Linked DNA regions of Homo sapiens: region 2 is linked to region 1. A link means that fine-mapping ties the variant in region 1 to the expression of a gene that starts in the linked region. Tissue or cell type: whole blood. Region 1 holds a variant in brackets; the other region holds the start of a gene. All regions are shown on one strand. Distances are between the middles of the regions.

What was found. PIP is the estimated chance that this variant, and not a neighbour inherited with it, causes the effect.
Region 2: NUMB starts here. The variant in region 1 is fine-mapped to the expression of NUMB in whole blood (INTERVAL, PIP above 0.99).

The regions. Positions count from the first base shown.
Region 1 is chr14:72,977,026-72,985,129 of GRCh38, forward strand. It overlaps ZFYVE1 (zinc finger FYVE-type containing 1), which reads right to left. Exons shown (of 12, transcript NM_021260.4): 5 at 4,764-4,870; 6 at 1,836-1,944; 7 at 1,112-1,209; 8 at 902-1,019. Among named protein-coding and RNA genes, the nearest start is that of TRC-GCA8-1, 18 kb to the left of the region's middle. The variant A/AGAAT (reference allele first, on the strand shown) is at 3,501.
Region 2 is chr14:73,455,203-73,463,306 of GRCh38, forward strand. It overlaps NUMB (NUMB endocytic adaptor protein), which reads right to left and starts at 3,344. Exons shown (of 13, transcript NM_001005743.2): 1 at 3,291-3,344. LOC101928143 (a long non-coding RNA gene) reads right to left here. Exons shown (of 3, transcript NR_135251.1): 2 at 7,327-7,487; 3 at 5,733-6,062. RefSeq lists silencers at 3,068-3,197, 3,208-3,297, 3,488-3,687 and enhancers at 3,673-4,206, 4,207-4,740.

The DNA.
Region 1 (8,104 bases):
GAACAGTGATTTAATGCAGAATGAAAGCATGATATCACTGCCTCACAAACAGATTTGTATTTCTGACATCTGGAATTCAAAAGTTAAAAAATAATCATTAAACTGGGCGCGGTGGCTCACGCCCATAATCCCAGCCCTTTGGGAGGCCGAGGTGGGCAGGTCACCTGAGGTCGGGAGTTTGAAACCAGCCTGACCAACATGGAGAAACCCTGTCTTTACTGAAAATACAAAATTAGCCGGGCGTGGCGGTCGTGCCTGTAATCCCAGCTACTCGGGAAGCTGAGGCAGGAGAATCACTTGAACCCGGGAGGTGGAGATTGCAGTGAGCCAAGAGAGCCAAGATCTCACCATTGCACTTCAGCCTGGGGAACAAGAGCGAAACTCCGTCTCAAAAAAAAAAAGATTAAGCGTCTATAGGAATCCCACTTCTTAGAATATACTTCAAGAAAATTTCCTATAACAAAAAAATGGCTTTCTTACACGAAGATGGTGACTAGCATTTTAATGATCTTTTTAAAAAGGTGGAAATAAAACTAAATAAAATAGCATTGTGAGGAAAAAAAGCAGGAAAAAGGCATGTAAATATTTGCATCTAGAAAAACATACACATATAGAAAATGAATGAGTAGAACATGCAAAAACGTTTTATTTGCCAAAGGAGTAAAACTATAGATTTTTAGTTTATTTCATTTAAAGTTGTACTTCTAATATATATGCAAGAAAAAATAAAAACAATTTTGGTCTAGAGAACAAAAAAGCTCTCCAGATCATGCCTTTCTAAACCGCCAACATTCTGAAATTCATGGTTAACCTTAATTTTAAGCAGGTTCCAGTTTTCTATACACATGAAAAACTGAACGACACAAGATAAAGAAAAACAGAGAAATCCAACAGTTCTTACTCCAGGCCACACATGCACAATCTCTGTCCGCACCACCGTATCCACAGGATCTTGGTTTCCAAACCAGTACTGCCGACTACGATAGACCACGCCACAGTTAGGACATTCGATCACATACCTACAAGGAAAGCAAATCAATACTGTTACCCAGCCAGGTGCCTGGGGAGACAAACGCACCAGAAAACCTTGAGCCATGTTGTTTAAACTCACCCAGACCAGGCATATTTTGCGAGACCCATCCAGGGGGAGTCAGTGGAAGCAGATGTTTTGGGCACTACACTGACTTCCTCGCCTCTCTCATAGCAGGCCTGAAACAGGAAACACTCTGCTAGCTTATTGTTTGTTTTTTGTTTGTTTTTTTAATAGACACGGGGTTTTACCAGCCCAGGCTGGTTGTGAACTCCTGGGCTCAAGCAATCTGCCCGATCTCAGGAGTTCGAGATCAGCCTGGCCAACATGGTGAAACCCTGTCTCTACTAAAAATACAAAAATTAGCTGGGCATGGTGGCACACATCTGTAATCCCAGCTACTCAGGAGGCTCAGGCAGGAGAATTGCTGCAGCCCAGGAGGTGGAGGTTGCAGTAAGCCAAGATTGTGCCACTGCACTCCAGCCTGGCTGACAGAGCAAGACTCTGTCTCAAAAAAAAAAAAAAAAAAAAAAAAAAAAAAGAATGAATGTTCGATATAAATTACCCTTACATACAAGCTCAACAGAATGAGAAGAAAATAAGCTTAAAACAGTAAACAAAGGGACCCTCACCAATGAAGACATGTGAGTGCTTTTTGTTAGAGCTGGAGAGAAGTTCCAGAAATATTCAATTTGAATATCAAATACTTCAGCATGCAGCAAAAAATGGCCCCAAGATAGTCTTGCCAAAGAGAGAGTGGTCAGCAAGCCCGCTGCTGACACAGGGAGGAGCTCGGAGGACTCACCTTGCAGGTATACACTCGGTTGTCATACTGGTGGGAGTATCTGCAGCGGCTCTTGGCTTCATGAGGCACTCCTTCCTTCCCATGATTCATGCTTTTCTTACATCCAACCCTGAATGAAGCCCAAAGACTGACAATGAGACGGCTAAAGGAGCCAGTGCCACTTACACAGAACAGCCTGACCCTGAGCCAGGCACAAGGCCACGACCAGACCTTGATTACTAACTGGGCCTCAGATGCTGAACACAGAAAGGGTAGCCGGAAACCCACATGCCTCTTTGTTACACTTGCAATCAACAGCACTACAGAGGCACAGCGACTACTATCCTTGTATGAGGACACAGGGGAAAAAGAAATCTCAGCCGGGCACGGTGGCTCACGTCTGTAATCCCAGTACTTTGGGAGGCCGACGGGGGCAGATCACTTCAGGTCAGAAGTTCAAGACCAGCCTAGCCAACATGGTGAAACATCGACTCTACCAAAAATACAAAACTTAGCCGGGCATGGTGGCGGGCACCCATAGTCCCAGGTACTCGGGAGGCTGAGGCAGGAGAATCGCTTGAACCCAGGAGGTGGAGGTTGCAGTGAGTTCAAGACCAGCCTGACCAACATGGAGAAACCCCGTCTCTACTAAAAATACAAAAAAATTAGCCAGGCATAGTGGCTCATGCCTGTAATCCCAGCTACTCAGGAGGCTGAGGCAGGAGAATCACTTGAATCCAGGAGGCGGAGGTTGCAGTAAGCCAAGATCACACCGCTATACTCCAGCCTGGGCAACAGCGAGACTCTGTCTTTAAAAAAAAAAAAAAAAATACACCCAGAAATCCCTTGTTGGAAAAACTACCTGTCCCCTCAGCAGAAATGGAGGAGCCATAAGATACCAACTTGACCAGAGAGGAAACCTGAACGTCTCTCAGAAGACTCAAAAAATCCAAACAAGATGAAATGGAACGTTTACCCAGAACAGGCTGCCAAGATGCAAAATGAAAACCAACCCCAAAATTTGGCAATGCATTAAGGGGAGGCTTAGGCTGAACAAGCCTTCCAAATGAACAATGAGCTCTGCCATCCTGATAATGCAAAAACAGAGATCAGGACTTTAGAATTTCACTATGATAAAAGGGAAAGTTCCAGAAATCCTGGGGAGGCTCACAATGGGAAAGCAATGATCCAACAGTGCTTAAGTCTCTTGTGCTGGGCTCATGGGGCATGCAAAAAGGAAGGTAAGTCACACTGTCAACTAACATCCCTCTCCCCTTTCCAAACTGAACTCTCCAAGATAATCCTTAGTTCTCCCTTGCCCAGGCTGTATAATCCAAGAAGCAGGTCTTTTTCTCGGCAAGGTCAGAGGTGGTTCTGCATGCAGCAGGTGGCCTACAGGACTCAAAGTGAAATGACCATTCATAACAGATGTAGGTCAGGTCTACTCCTGTAAAAGGAGAAGTGTGCAGGACAGGGTGGTTCTGGTAGAAGCAAAGACAATTTGGTAGTGAAGAGTGGAAGGGATTGTCTACAGGACATGGAGGCTGCCATCTGACCTCGACACACTGCATTTAAATCCCCTGGGGCCCATCAGACAAGTCACCACACTGATTTAACAGCCATCAACAGTTCAAACTAATCCAGTGATCCTCAAAGGGTGGTCCCCATGAACATCAGCATCACCTG[A/AGAAT]GAATTAATTAATTTATTTATTTATTTATTTATTTATTTATTTATTTATTTATTTATTTTGAGAAAGAGTCTCACTCTGTCGCCCAGGCTGGAGTGCAGTGGCGCAATCTCAGCTCACTGCGGGCTCCGCCTCCCGGGTTCACGCCATTCTCCTGCCTCAGCCTCCCGAGTAGCTGGGACTACAGGCGCCGGCCACCGTGCCAGGCTAATTTTTTTGTATTTTTAGTAGAGACAGGGTTTCACCATAGTCTCGATCTGCTGACCTCGTGATCCACCTGCCTCGGCCTCCCCAAGTGCTGGGATTACAGGCGTAAGCCACCGTGCCCGGCCGAGAATTTATTAAATTTATTAAAATGCAAACTCCCAGGCCCTATCTCAGACCTACTGAATTAGAAACTGTGGAGGGGGCACCCAGTGATCCTGCCCTTCAGGTTTTTCTGATGCATGCTAAAATTTGCGGATCACTGCTCTAACCATAACAAAGTGCGGTCCACAAACCAAAGGCACAGCCATTGCCCGGGAGCTTGACAGAAATGCAGAATCTCAGGTTTCACCCAGACCTGATTCCGAATCTGCATTCTAACAGAATCTCAAGGTGATGCATACACAATTGAAGTTTCGGAAGCACTGTCCCAACTCAATGTCCTCAGCTCGGGCTGCACTTTAGAATCCTCTGAGGAGCATCTTAAACATAGCAATGCAGAGGTCCTACACACGACCCGTTAATTAGAATCCCAGAAGGTGGTGCCCTGGCATAAATAATTTTGAAAGCTCCCCAGAAAATTCTAATGTGCTCTAAACATTTCCCCTAATAGTGAAAGGAATCACCTGGAATCAATACCGACCCATAGTGTTTTGCACAGGGGGGGCACTCAAATATCACTTGAATACTTAGAATACTATGAATAAGTGACTGGAAACTCTGGTAGAAAAAACACAGAAAAGCAGGCAACCCAAAGTCTTCTGCCCTAAAAACCTCCCAAACCAGAAGCTGGTCAATTTCACATCTATACCAGCTGGAATTTCCAGGAGATTCTTCACCACCATGTGTCCTTCAAGCTCTTGCTACCTCAGAAGTGTGGTTCCTAGACCACCAGGATCTTGTGGGAACATGGGAGTGTACCATTTTGGATAATTTAAATCAGAACCTGTAATTTAGCAAGATCCCAGGGGATCTGCATCCACACCAAAGTCTAGGAAGCACCACTCAAAGGCTCTATTCTCAAGGTATGGGGTGGGAGGTGGGGGAGCGGCCTTACTTACCCACAGCTGAGGCACAAGGAGGAGCAGGTGAAATACTCATCTGGAAAAAAGGAGCTGTGCGCCATCTGGTCATCGGGGATCTCACCGCTGAAGCGGTCACTTAGTGCCTGCCAAGGAGGGAAGGTGACATATGATGGCACTCAGTAGAGAGCTCCGCACTTTGGCCCCCCACTGCAGGCACCGTACAAGCAACACAGGCACAGAAGAAATCCAGTAACTTCTGCTCATTACCCTTGACCTTCCTGACCCCACTCACATCAGTCCTTACCATGGGAAACCTTGGAAAGAACCAGCCCATTCCCCAAGAGGTCAAGATAAGCAAAGTTACTGTTCTCCCCTAATTGCCTTGCAGGTTATAAACACCTCACACCACTCAGTCTTTTATTCAAGACCACCACAAATAATGATGAATGCCCATTTCATCTATGTGAGGCTGGAACCAAGAAACCAAGACTCACGAGGATGGCTCCTCTTTAAGCCACAGGCAGAGCCCAGATGTGATCTGTGAGTTTCCCGGGCTTCTATCCCAGCTATAACCACAGGCACTTACTTGGAGTTTACTAGACCATAGACAAACTCAAAGCAGGAAAAATGTCACCAGAAAAAAAAAAAAGAAGAAGAATTATTATAGTGTTTGCCAGTCATTTATCAACTCTACCAACCCCCAAAACAGACATTACCCAAAGGACAGCAAATGGCCAAAATAAATGCCAAGAAGATAACATATCCACAAAGCAAACTGAAAATTTCAGGTTGAAATGTAGCTTCCATTCCTAATCCTATCTTCACTTATTACTGGATATTGAAAGTATTCCTCAGGCTAATTACAGAAAGGCGCTTTCCACACTTTAGAAATCACTAAGCACATGCTGCTCCAAGCTTCTAACTTTCAGTCCAGCCCCAGTGTGAAGAAGCCAGGCATTATCCAAGGGAAAATAAGGGAAAGAAGCCTTAACAAAAGGACAATATGTTACTTCCTTCCATAAACGGGCAGAAGAGAATTTTAAAGGAGATCTGGAAAAAGGGCAGGTTAGGTTTTAAACGAAGAACAATTAGAACTTTTTTTTTTTTTGAGATGGAGTTTTGCTCTTGTTGCCCAGGCTGGAGTGCACTGGCACGATCTTGGCTCACTACAACCTCTGCCCCCTGGGTTCAAGAGATTCCCCTGCCTCAGCCTCCCAAGTAGCTAGGATTACAGGCACCCACCACCACACCCGGCTAATTTTTTGTATTTTTAGTAGAAATGAGGTTTCACCATTTTGGCCAGGCTGGTCTTGAACTCCAGGCCTCAGGTGATCCACCCGCCTCGGCCTCACAAAGTGCTGGGATTACAGACGTAAGCCACCATGCTCAGCTGAACAATTAGAACTTCTTATGCAAGGTTCCTTTTCCTGTTTCCAATGCAGTCTTTTTTTTTTTTTAATTATATTTTAAGTTCTAGAGTACATGAGCACAACGTGCAGGTTTGTTACATACGTATACATGTGCCACGTTGGTGTGCTGCACCCATTAACTCGTCATTTACATTAGGTGTATCTCCTAATGCTATCCTTCCCCCCTCCCCCCCACCCCACCACAGGCCTCGATGTGTGATGTTCCCCCCCTTCCTGTGTCCAAGTGTTCTCATTGTTCAATTCCCACCTATAAGTGAGAACATGCGGTGTTTGGTTTTTTGTCCTTGCAATAGTTTGCTGAGAATGATGGTTTCCAGCTTCATCCATGTCCCTACAAAGGACATGAACTCATCCTTTTTTATGGCTGCATAGTATTCCATGGTGTATATGTGCCACATTTTCTTAATCCAGTCTATCATTGATGGACATTTGGGTTGGTTCCAAGTCTTTGCTATTGTGAATAGTGCCGCAATAAACATACGTGTGCATGTGTCTTTGTAGCAGCATGATTTATAATCCTTTGGGTATATACCCAGTAATGGGATGGCTGGGTCAAATGGTATTTCTAGTTCTAGATTCTTGAGGAATCGCCACGCTGGTTGAACTAGTTTACAGTCCCACCAACAGTGTAAAAGTGTTCCTATTTCTCCACATCCTCTCCAGTATCTGTTGTTTCCTGGCCATCAGAGAAATGCAAATCAAAACCACAATGAGATACCATCTCACACCAGTTAGAATGGCGATCATTAAAAAGTCCAATGCAGTCTTAACACCAGGAGTTGCAAACTCAAGTCCCTACAAAGGCACGTAATATCAATGTTGAGTCAGGTCAGGTGTAGGACCAGAATAGTGGCAAGGAGTGGGTCAAACTGAAGGTACACAACTCACCCAAGGACATTCTCACTCAGGTCCTGCAGGGCTACTGCAGAGGCCATAGAACACCATCCGTCAGCCACGGCTGACCAAGCGGCAACCCTGGACTTCAAACAACAAAAAAAATGGTCTGACAAATAATGCATAAGTCCTATACTTTTTGGGGGTACTTTGATAAAGAGTTAAAACATGGGGCCAGGCACGGTGGCTCATGCCTGTAATCCCAGCATTTTGGGAGGCCAAGGTGGGTGGATCACGAGGTCAGGAGTTCGAGACCAGCCTGTCCAGCATGGTGAAACCCCATCTCTACTAAAAATACAAAAATTAGCTGGGCGTGGTGGCGGGCGCCTGTAATCCCAGCTACTCAGGAGACTGAGGCAGGAGAATCATTTGAACCCGGGAGGCGGACGTTACAGTGAGCCAAGATCACGCCATTGCACTCCAGCCTGGGTGACAGGGTGAGACTCCGTCTCAAAAAAAAAAAAAATTGAAAACATGAAGATCTTGAAAGAGGATATGAATGAATATATAGAAATGCTGAGAATAAATGAGAAGCAGGGCAAGTGGAATTATAAGTCGGCCTATACATTTCAGCCTATACAGCGTTCTCTCTCCTGCTTCTACCTGAGACCCATTCTTCAGGGATGTTTGTGGTCTCACCTCTTCCAATGAAGCCTCTCCAACCACATCACTCTCTGCCTTCTCTGACAGCCCATTGTACTCAATACTGTAACTCGGTATTAAATAATTAGGCAATGATGCAAAGCTATGGGTTTGCTGTATTTTATCTCCAGGACTAGATCATAAATACTGTGAAAGCAGCTTCCTACCTTTGCATCCTCCTCCAAATCCTAGCAAAGGACCTAACAGGTACTCAGCTAGAACTGCTGGAATAAGTGCCCAGCACCAACTCCCCTTCACAAACCAACCTTGCCCTCCTCCTCTCCTGGCCCTGCCCTTGCCCTAGGCTTCTTTCATCCCATCCCCAGAGGTCCTCTCAAATTTAAGGCTAACTACTCCCTAACTGGCCAAATTATCAATAACTCTCCAGGCTGTTTCTCAAAGATATGTACA
Region 2 (8,104 bases), 480 kb after region 1:
GTTTCTTCACAATTTCATAAAACATTAATGAAGAGGTTACATAATCCCCTGGATTAAAGATTTTAAAGAAAGCTGCAAGGATCTCTTTCAGTTTTCAATACTGCTTCCTGTTCTTAACAGCCATAAAAACAGATCTAAATCAACTCCTAAATATAAACCATCTAGCTTTCAATGGAAGAAAAATCAAACCACGTACAGATAAAACATACATATTCTTTTTAAAAACACGCTGTAAATTACATTTAGGTTCCTCAAACAAGTTAAGTTTACAACATGTACCACATCCAGTTTATTCTCAAGGGAGAAAACCATTAAACAAAAGCTCCCTCTTAATAAATGATTTACTTTGTAGTTAAGCCTCTATCCCAGGTGCATTTTGCTGTCACATATTACCACTATTTCTTTTCTCTACAAAGACCTAGAAACTGTATATCTAGTTCCTTTAAAAATATCTGTATATGTTTTATATTAGTGTAAGGATAAGAAATACTTAATATTTTTACTCTCTAAAAAGGAAATATCTTTTCATTTTTCTCTTTTGCAGTGTTTCTTACTTTGTTTTTGCTTATTTTCTATACATGAAATTTTCTCAAGTCAGTCCATTTCAGTGTTGTTTACTGTCAATATGTCTGTGTATACTCAGGCTTTTACAAACAATGCTTTACGGTACAGTGATAAAAAAGAAAGGGTGAACAAGAGGGCACAAGTGAAACAAAAGCGGACAACATCTGAGAAACACCATTCAATTTCTCTGCCTCAGATTCCCTTAAGTTCTCATGCCAAAGATTCTCAATATCCAAAAAAGTTCCAGAGTCAGAGGCATAACACAATATGTGACAAGACAAACACAGGAGGAACCAAATCAGAAACTGAAGAAATTTAATGGAATATAATACTCCCAAAAAAACCTTTTTTTTTTTTTTTAAGATGGAGTTTCACTCTTGTTGCCCAGACTGGAATGCAATGGCATGATCTCGGCTCACTGCAACCTCCACCTCCGGGGTTCAAGCAATTCTCCAGCCTCAGCCTTCCAAGTAGCTGGGATTACAGGCACGCGCCACCACGCCCAGCTAATTTTGTATTTTTTTTAAAGATGGGGGTCTCACCATGTTGGTCAGGCTGATCTTGAACTCCTGACCTCAAGTGATCCGCCCGCCTTGGCCTCCCAAAGTGCTGGGATTATAGGCGTGAGCCACCGCACCCAGCTTTCAGACTTTTTTAACTGTAAGAAATATATTTTATCCTTTGGCCAGGAACTCAAAAAAAGAAATACACTTTACATTGTGACCTAGTACATACATGTAGGAGAAAAGTTTCCCAAAACAATACTTTTCCTTACCAAATGCAATGTCAGTTTATTCTGTTCTACATTTTATTTTCAATGCAGGTAAAAACTCACAACATTGATTTTATAAATTACTAATAAATCACAATCCACAGTTTGAAAAACACAGGCTAAAAATGAGTATCCTTTATAATAGGATCTTTTAGGCAATTTGCCTCTACCTGTCTCTTTAGCAGGTATTTTAAAGTTGCTACCATTATTACCGGTTTCATTAAAGTAAGTGGTTCTTAAAGTGTGGTCCTCTGACCAACGTGATCATCATTTGAGATAAATATAAATTATTGGGCCCCACCCCAGACCTACTGAAACCCCCAGGTGGGGCCAAGCAATCTACATTTTACCAAGCCCTCCAGGTGATTTTGATGCAAGCTAACATCTGCGAGCCAGGTCTTTACCTTCTATTTAAGAAGTCAGGTCTTTATCGTCTATTGAACAATCCAGTACACACGACTATGTGCCAGTCACTATCCTAAAAGCTCTACAAATACCAACTCACATGAAAAAAAAAACACCACCACCACCTTATAAAGTAGGAACTATTACTATTAGTATTCTGATGAGGAAACTGCACAGAAACTTAGCTAAGTGGTGGAACTAGAACTCAAAACTTCTTTTCACTTTAGCCGAGTATGCCTACCCTCTTTCTGATAAGTATTTACTTCTACTCCTTTAGTTCAGCTACTCCTCCCCTTTTCCCTCCCAAATTCCCCACCCTGTCAATGAACCTATTTCCTAATATTACTGCCATCATCCTAAAACAAATTTCTTTTCTAAAACAAGTCACTTAACCTTGCTTTTAGGAGCTTTGCTTTGGTCCTAGATGTCATCTTGATATTAATTACGAAACTGAAGTTTCTTCTATTTGTGAAGACCTGTGAACCTACATGGCTCCACTGTTAATTTCTCATATATCTACTGTCCTAGCCAGTTCCACGAAACCATTACTCTCTCCTCGGGCAACTTTCTTTCTCTACCTTATCCCCTCCTATAGGGATTCTCTCCCACCTCCGCCCATCTCCGTCCCATTTTGCATGACTCCTCTCCGACCGAGGGAACTTCCACTCCCCTGCTGGCTCCTCACCCCGGTCTCAAACGCGAGCCACTCCTCGAGGACTTCTTTCCTGGTCCCTTAGGGATCCTCAGAGCCGGAGCGGCCAGGCCAGTTGGGTCTCCCATCCCAGCTCAGCTATGGGGGCGCAGGGAGCTCCGGTTCTTCCCCCAGGCGGTGCAAGATCTCTACTCGTCCGACCCTCCGAAGACCTGCTGCTCCTCATCTCTCCAGGAGCCCCCTCCCTTGGACAGCCGCTTTTCTCAGGAGGGTCCCCAACCCCCTCCGAGCGTTTCCTCAGACGCCCCTACTTGGAGCAAGTCTGCTCCCTGTCACCCGGGACCCTGGCCACCCTCGGCCTTCCTACCTCCCTCGGACCGGGGCCACTCCCAGTTCCCCTGCCCCCCACCCCGCTCTCTCCTCACCGGCCGCTGCCGGGCTTCCCGGATTCCTTTTCTCCCTGGCACCCAAGCCGTCCTGGGTATTCCCAAGACACCCCGCCCTTGAAGCAGGTCGTTACAGGTCACCCCCTCTCTGGGACCCTGGCCGCTTCCGTTTCCTCAGATACCTACTCCTCACACAGTGGCCGCCGGTCAGCGCGCTAGACCGGAGCAGCTGGACGTCCCAAGGGACCTCCTGGCCTGACCCGCGCGGGTCCGGCCGTAGCCTACCTTCCTCGGGAGAACTCCGCAGCCAGAAGCCCAGCCCCTCTCCCCCTAGCCCAGTCAGCGCGAACTCGCCGCCGCCCCCGCCGCCTCCGCCCTGGCCCCGGCCCCGGCCCGGGCCCCGACCCGAAGTCCAGGCCCCCTTCCTCCGGCCTCCGCCTCCGGAGTGCTGAGCTGGAGATTCCGCCCCGCGACGGCCCCCAGATCTCTGACCCGCGTTACCGGCACTCACCTGCCGCTGCCCCCGACCAACTCAAGCGCCACTGCCTCTACCTCGGCCGCCAGTGGCCACCAAGCGCCACCACCTCCCCCATGACAACAGGCCCACCCTCTTTCATACTTCTAACCTATCCATTGGATAGTGGGGCGGCAGCTCTCCTCTCTGATTGGTTTAGTATACCCGCCCGTCATCGCTCTTTACCGCCCCTTTTCCTAAACCCGGTATTCGCCCCCGCCCGGACCTGGAGCGTCCTAGCCCAAGCTTTAGTTGTAATTGGTTGAGGGTTGGGCAATTCGAAGTTATGATAGGCTGCTAAAAGTGTCTGTTAAGCTAACTGGCAAGAGACGTGACGGTTAAGGTTGATTCACGCTTGTGCACAGTTTGGTTGCGCAGTAGAAAGCAAAGGAGGGGCAGACGCTCACATTCGTGGTTACCCGGGAAGGGTTAAGTCTTTGTTGTAGAGTTTTCTCTGTAAACTTTTCCACTTCTCCAGCTCACTTCCTGCAAGGAGAAGCTTATCTCTGCTAGCTTTATTCATAGGGGTAGTACTTACAAAACACCAACATTAGAGGTTGTGTTTAAGAAGTGTTTCCAAGCCCTGGGGAGAAAGGTATCAGAGAGATAAAAATGTCCCCTTCTTTTCTTTGGTCTCAATGCATCCAATTTCATTGAAGTTCTTTCCAGGAGCCTCAATGCTAAAGGGCAAAGCGCAAACTTTCATTTAGCAGAAATCAGTCAACTTCGGTTGCAATTATAAATGTCGTCAATAAACTGAAGTGGCGTATTGAGAGTTCTCCAGCTTCCAGATCCACTCCTGGCTGACCCCTGCCAATTGACCAGACAGCCATTAGCAACTTTTTTTTTTTTTTTTTTTTTCTGTGAGACGGAGTTTCTCTCTTGTTGCCCAGGCTGGAGTGCAATGGTGCTATCTCGGCTCATCGCAACCTACGCCTCCCAGGTTCAAGCGATTCTTCTGCCTTAGCCTCCCGAGTAGCTGGGATTATAGGCATGAGACGGGGTTTCTCCATGTTGGTCAGGCTAGTCTCGAACTCCCAACCTCAGGTGATCCGCCCGCCTCGGCCTCCCAAAGTGCTGGTATTACAGGCGTAAGCCACCGCGCCCGGCCAGCAACTTTCTAATAAGCGGGCCACATTATACCCTTTATGATGCTCTGGAAATGAGAATTCTGCTTTCCCCCACCTCTCACTGCCACTTTGTTTTTCTGTTCAGCAGTTCTTAAATAGCCCTACTAGCTGTGTGTCAGATACTTTAAAAGCTTCTCTCTCTCTCTCTCTTTTTTTTTTCTAAACCTCTTCCTAGCAGTCTAAATTAGGGCCATTGAATGAATTGCCGGGTTGTGTGTGTGTGTGTTTTTTTTTTTTCCTCACTTGGCACAATGCACAAGAATAAATGATTGCATTTTTTATTCACTTGGGTACAAATCACAGTAGGCATTTTTGAGAAATCTAATGTTGCTATAAAAACTCTTGTGCTCCTAGAAATATATTCATCATTAGCTTTTTGTTTTTCCTTTTTTTTCACCCACTTTTCCTGCTCCTAAATAACAAAATGCTGGTCTGATTACTCTTTCAGTTTCTAAATCAGATTTAAATGTACTTTCTCACAACCCCACCTATGATACATATACCCATGGGCCATGAAACAACACCCAGGGATAGTTTAAGACACTGTCAGGCCGTGCGGTGGCTCATGCCTGTTATCCCAGCACTCTGGGAGGCCGAGCCGGGCAGATCACCTGAGGTCAGGAGTTTGAGACCAGCCTGACTAACATGGTGAAACCCCTGTCTCTGCAGATGGTGCCACTGCACTCCAGCCTGGGCAACAGAGTGAGACTCTGTCTTAAAAAAAAAAAAAAAAAAAGACACTGTCAAGGAGGCATTCACCTCAAGGATGTGGACTTTGGAAATGTGCTTTGTCTCTTTCTTCTTTCTGCTAACCCTTTGTCTCATATTTCTTCTATTTACTAACCTCCTTGTTCTTTGCAGAGCAAGCTACAAAGAGTCTAAAACTGTATGGTTTATTATTCAGAAAAATATTGTCTTTTTTCTAGCCTATATTTTTAGTCAAGTTTAAATAAAGTACATACTTCTATCACCAGACTAAGCAGAAATTATTCCTCCAGTAACTATACATAACAATAAAGTGCCTTTTCCTAGTTATTTTCCGGAACTTTCCTCCCCCTCCTCTCTTCCTCACCTTCCAATTTAGAAATAACCTCCCATTCAATTCAATGACTCACAAAAAGCCTGTGAAAGGAAAGTGGAAAAGCCAAAATAACTTAGAGATGTCTGAATCATTCAGCTGAAGGAAAGATCAGACATTGACCATGATAAGATAGACGCCAAGACATAAGGCAAGCCTGAGCTAACATCCCATAACATGTGAAGTAATGCAAATGTGAAGATGCCCCAAGAAAAAGCAAATACCAATATGTCCTTTTACACAGCCTTTTAATATATCACCAGCAGCTTGCTTCTCTCTAGTCTTGGCAGTGTGCCATGCTACCAATTTTAGAGCAAGTTAGAAGACAATTAATGTCCTGACAGATAGGAAACAATAACGTCATAGGAGGACATGACCATTATTATGGTACTTTGGGTAATAATGGCTCTTGCACAGCCATAGTGACTAGGTGCCATAGAAAACATAGAATTAGGCCAGCCTTGCTAAGAGGACTTGCCATCTAAGTTGAAGAATGCAGCGAAATTACTATCACAAAACTGGGTGGAAAATTGTCACAAAAGTCAGCCGCTATTTCATACACTAAAAAAAAAAAAAAAAAGAAAGCATGTATAAATGCTTTTGCTCATATACACACATCTATCATTCCTATTCTTTGTGAATATCAGTTAAGAAAGGACATATAAAATAAATATGTTACAACCCAGTAAGTAGTGGGAAAACCTTAAGGAAGGTTTCAAGGAACATGCCTTGAAATAACAGAAGGCTATTGTGTTATCAAAGACTGTGCAGTACCGGAGGGGTTATTGCTTGTATCCCTACATTTTGCTTTCACGTGCACAAGGTAACCCTATCATGTAATTACTCCATCCAGCTTTTTTCTTTTCTTTCCTGTGTTTTTTGCTTCTCTACCATTCTCAGGGCTCCCTCTCAGAAAACAAGAACACTGGAGTCTGGGAGTCTGCAGCTTCCTGTTGCATGGCTGGCTGTGGAGGTCCTGCAGATGGTATCTGTTCAGAGCCACTTGGGCACGACCAAGATGGCAGGTACATTCGGGGCAAAAATAGCATTTATAATCCCAATTAAGCAGAAAATAGAGGACTCAGAGTGATGTCCAATATCTGAGGAGTGATATAGTGTGCCTTGGGCTTTCCTGTACACTAATGCTGTTTCTCCTGCTCTTTCATAATGTCACTTTTCAAGGGAAAAGAATCCAAGTCTCTTTCCATTTCTATTTTAGCCCACAGGGGCAATCTCACTAGGGAAAGGATCCATTTTTTGCTTTTGGATTTTCTTCCTCTGGATTCTACACACGATTCCAATTCCAACTAGATTAGAGAAATAAACAACCGGTGGAGAAGAAAATCGCTCAGATAGCAGACAAGGGCCAGAACTGCCTGCCACTAGCAGTTGGAGGCAAGCCAAAATATTTGATAAGAGGTAGCTTCCTGAGTTAGGGATCCCTGAGGGTGGAGGCTGACAAAGATGAAGGGATTAGAGAGAAGGGGAGGGAAAAGGAGGGAAGAGGAGGAGATGAGGGGGCAGGAGAGAAAAGGGTAAGAAAAGCTAGAAAAACAGTCAAAAAACCCAATCAGAGTGCTGAGCCAGCTTACAGTCCTGCCTTGCCTACCCCCTATCCCCACCCATGTGGACTTTACACTAGGTTGCATAATTACACCAGCAAAGTGCAGCCTCTGCCACTGGTTAAAAGGGAAAGCGTGCCAGGCTCCAGCCTATGGGACCGTTGTTCTGCTGCCACCTGGAAATCCTCCCAGAGCTCAAAGCCTGCTGCTCTGGGCAAAGCTGACAAGGAAGGACAGATTCAGCAGCCAACCAAGGAGCATACCTTCATTTGATTTCCTTAAGGCAAAAGCACTGGCTAAACAAAGGGAGACTATCTGGGAGAAGGTGTTTTCACCCTTTCAAGCTGGGGTGCTTTCACCACCGGGAAGTGCCACGCTGCTTTCCACGCTGGAACAAGGTACTGTGGTTTCAAAGTTCAAGGCTCTGTTTCAGGGATGGGAAGGAAAAAAAAATCAGTGAAAGAAGGTGTTCTGGTCTCTCAGGCAGAACCATTTGTTATTTGATTCCAGAGCTCATGTAATTTTTAAATACCACACTATGCATTTTCATTACTAAATGCATTCATTTTCATCCTCAAGAAAAGTGTATGCCCCCTTCCGCCTGCTTTACATAATATGGCTTGAGCGCTTGTAAAAATGGATGGGCTGTAGCTCTGAGTTCTGCCATTGTGCTATTGACTGGAGCTCCTGGTTACTATCACCAGATCTATGGGTGGATCAGCCATTCTTCTGCAGCAGGGAGTGGACCGACTCAAAGCACTTAGCACCATTTAAACTTTTGTCCATCTCTGTTTTTATGCACACAAAGAGTTTCCTGGAAACATGGCTATCCTCCAAGGATTTCAGAGAGTAGAATTCTTCCAGAACTGCAGTGTCCCAATCACTTGGAACCTCATGAGAAAGCAGACTTAAACTCAGACCCTAGAACCTCGAACTTAGTATGTTCCAAAAGCTTTGGCTCTGCCATTTACCAACTGTGTAATTTGGGGAACATTGATTCATCACCCTAAAGCTTCATTTTCTTCATCTATAAAATGAGAT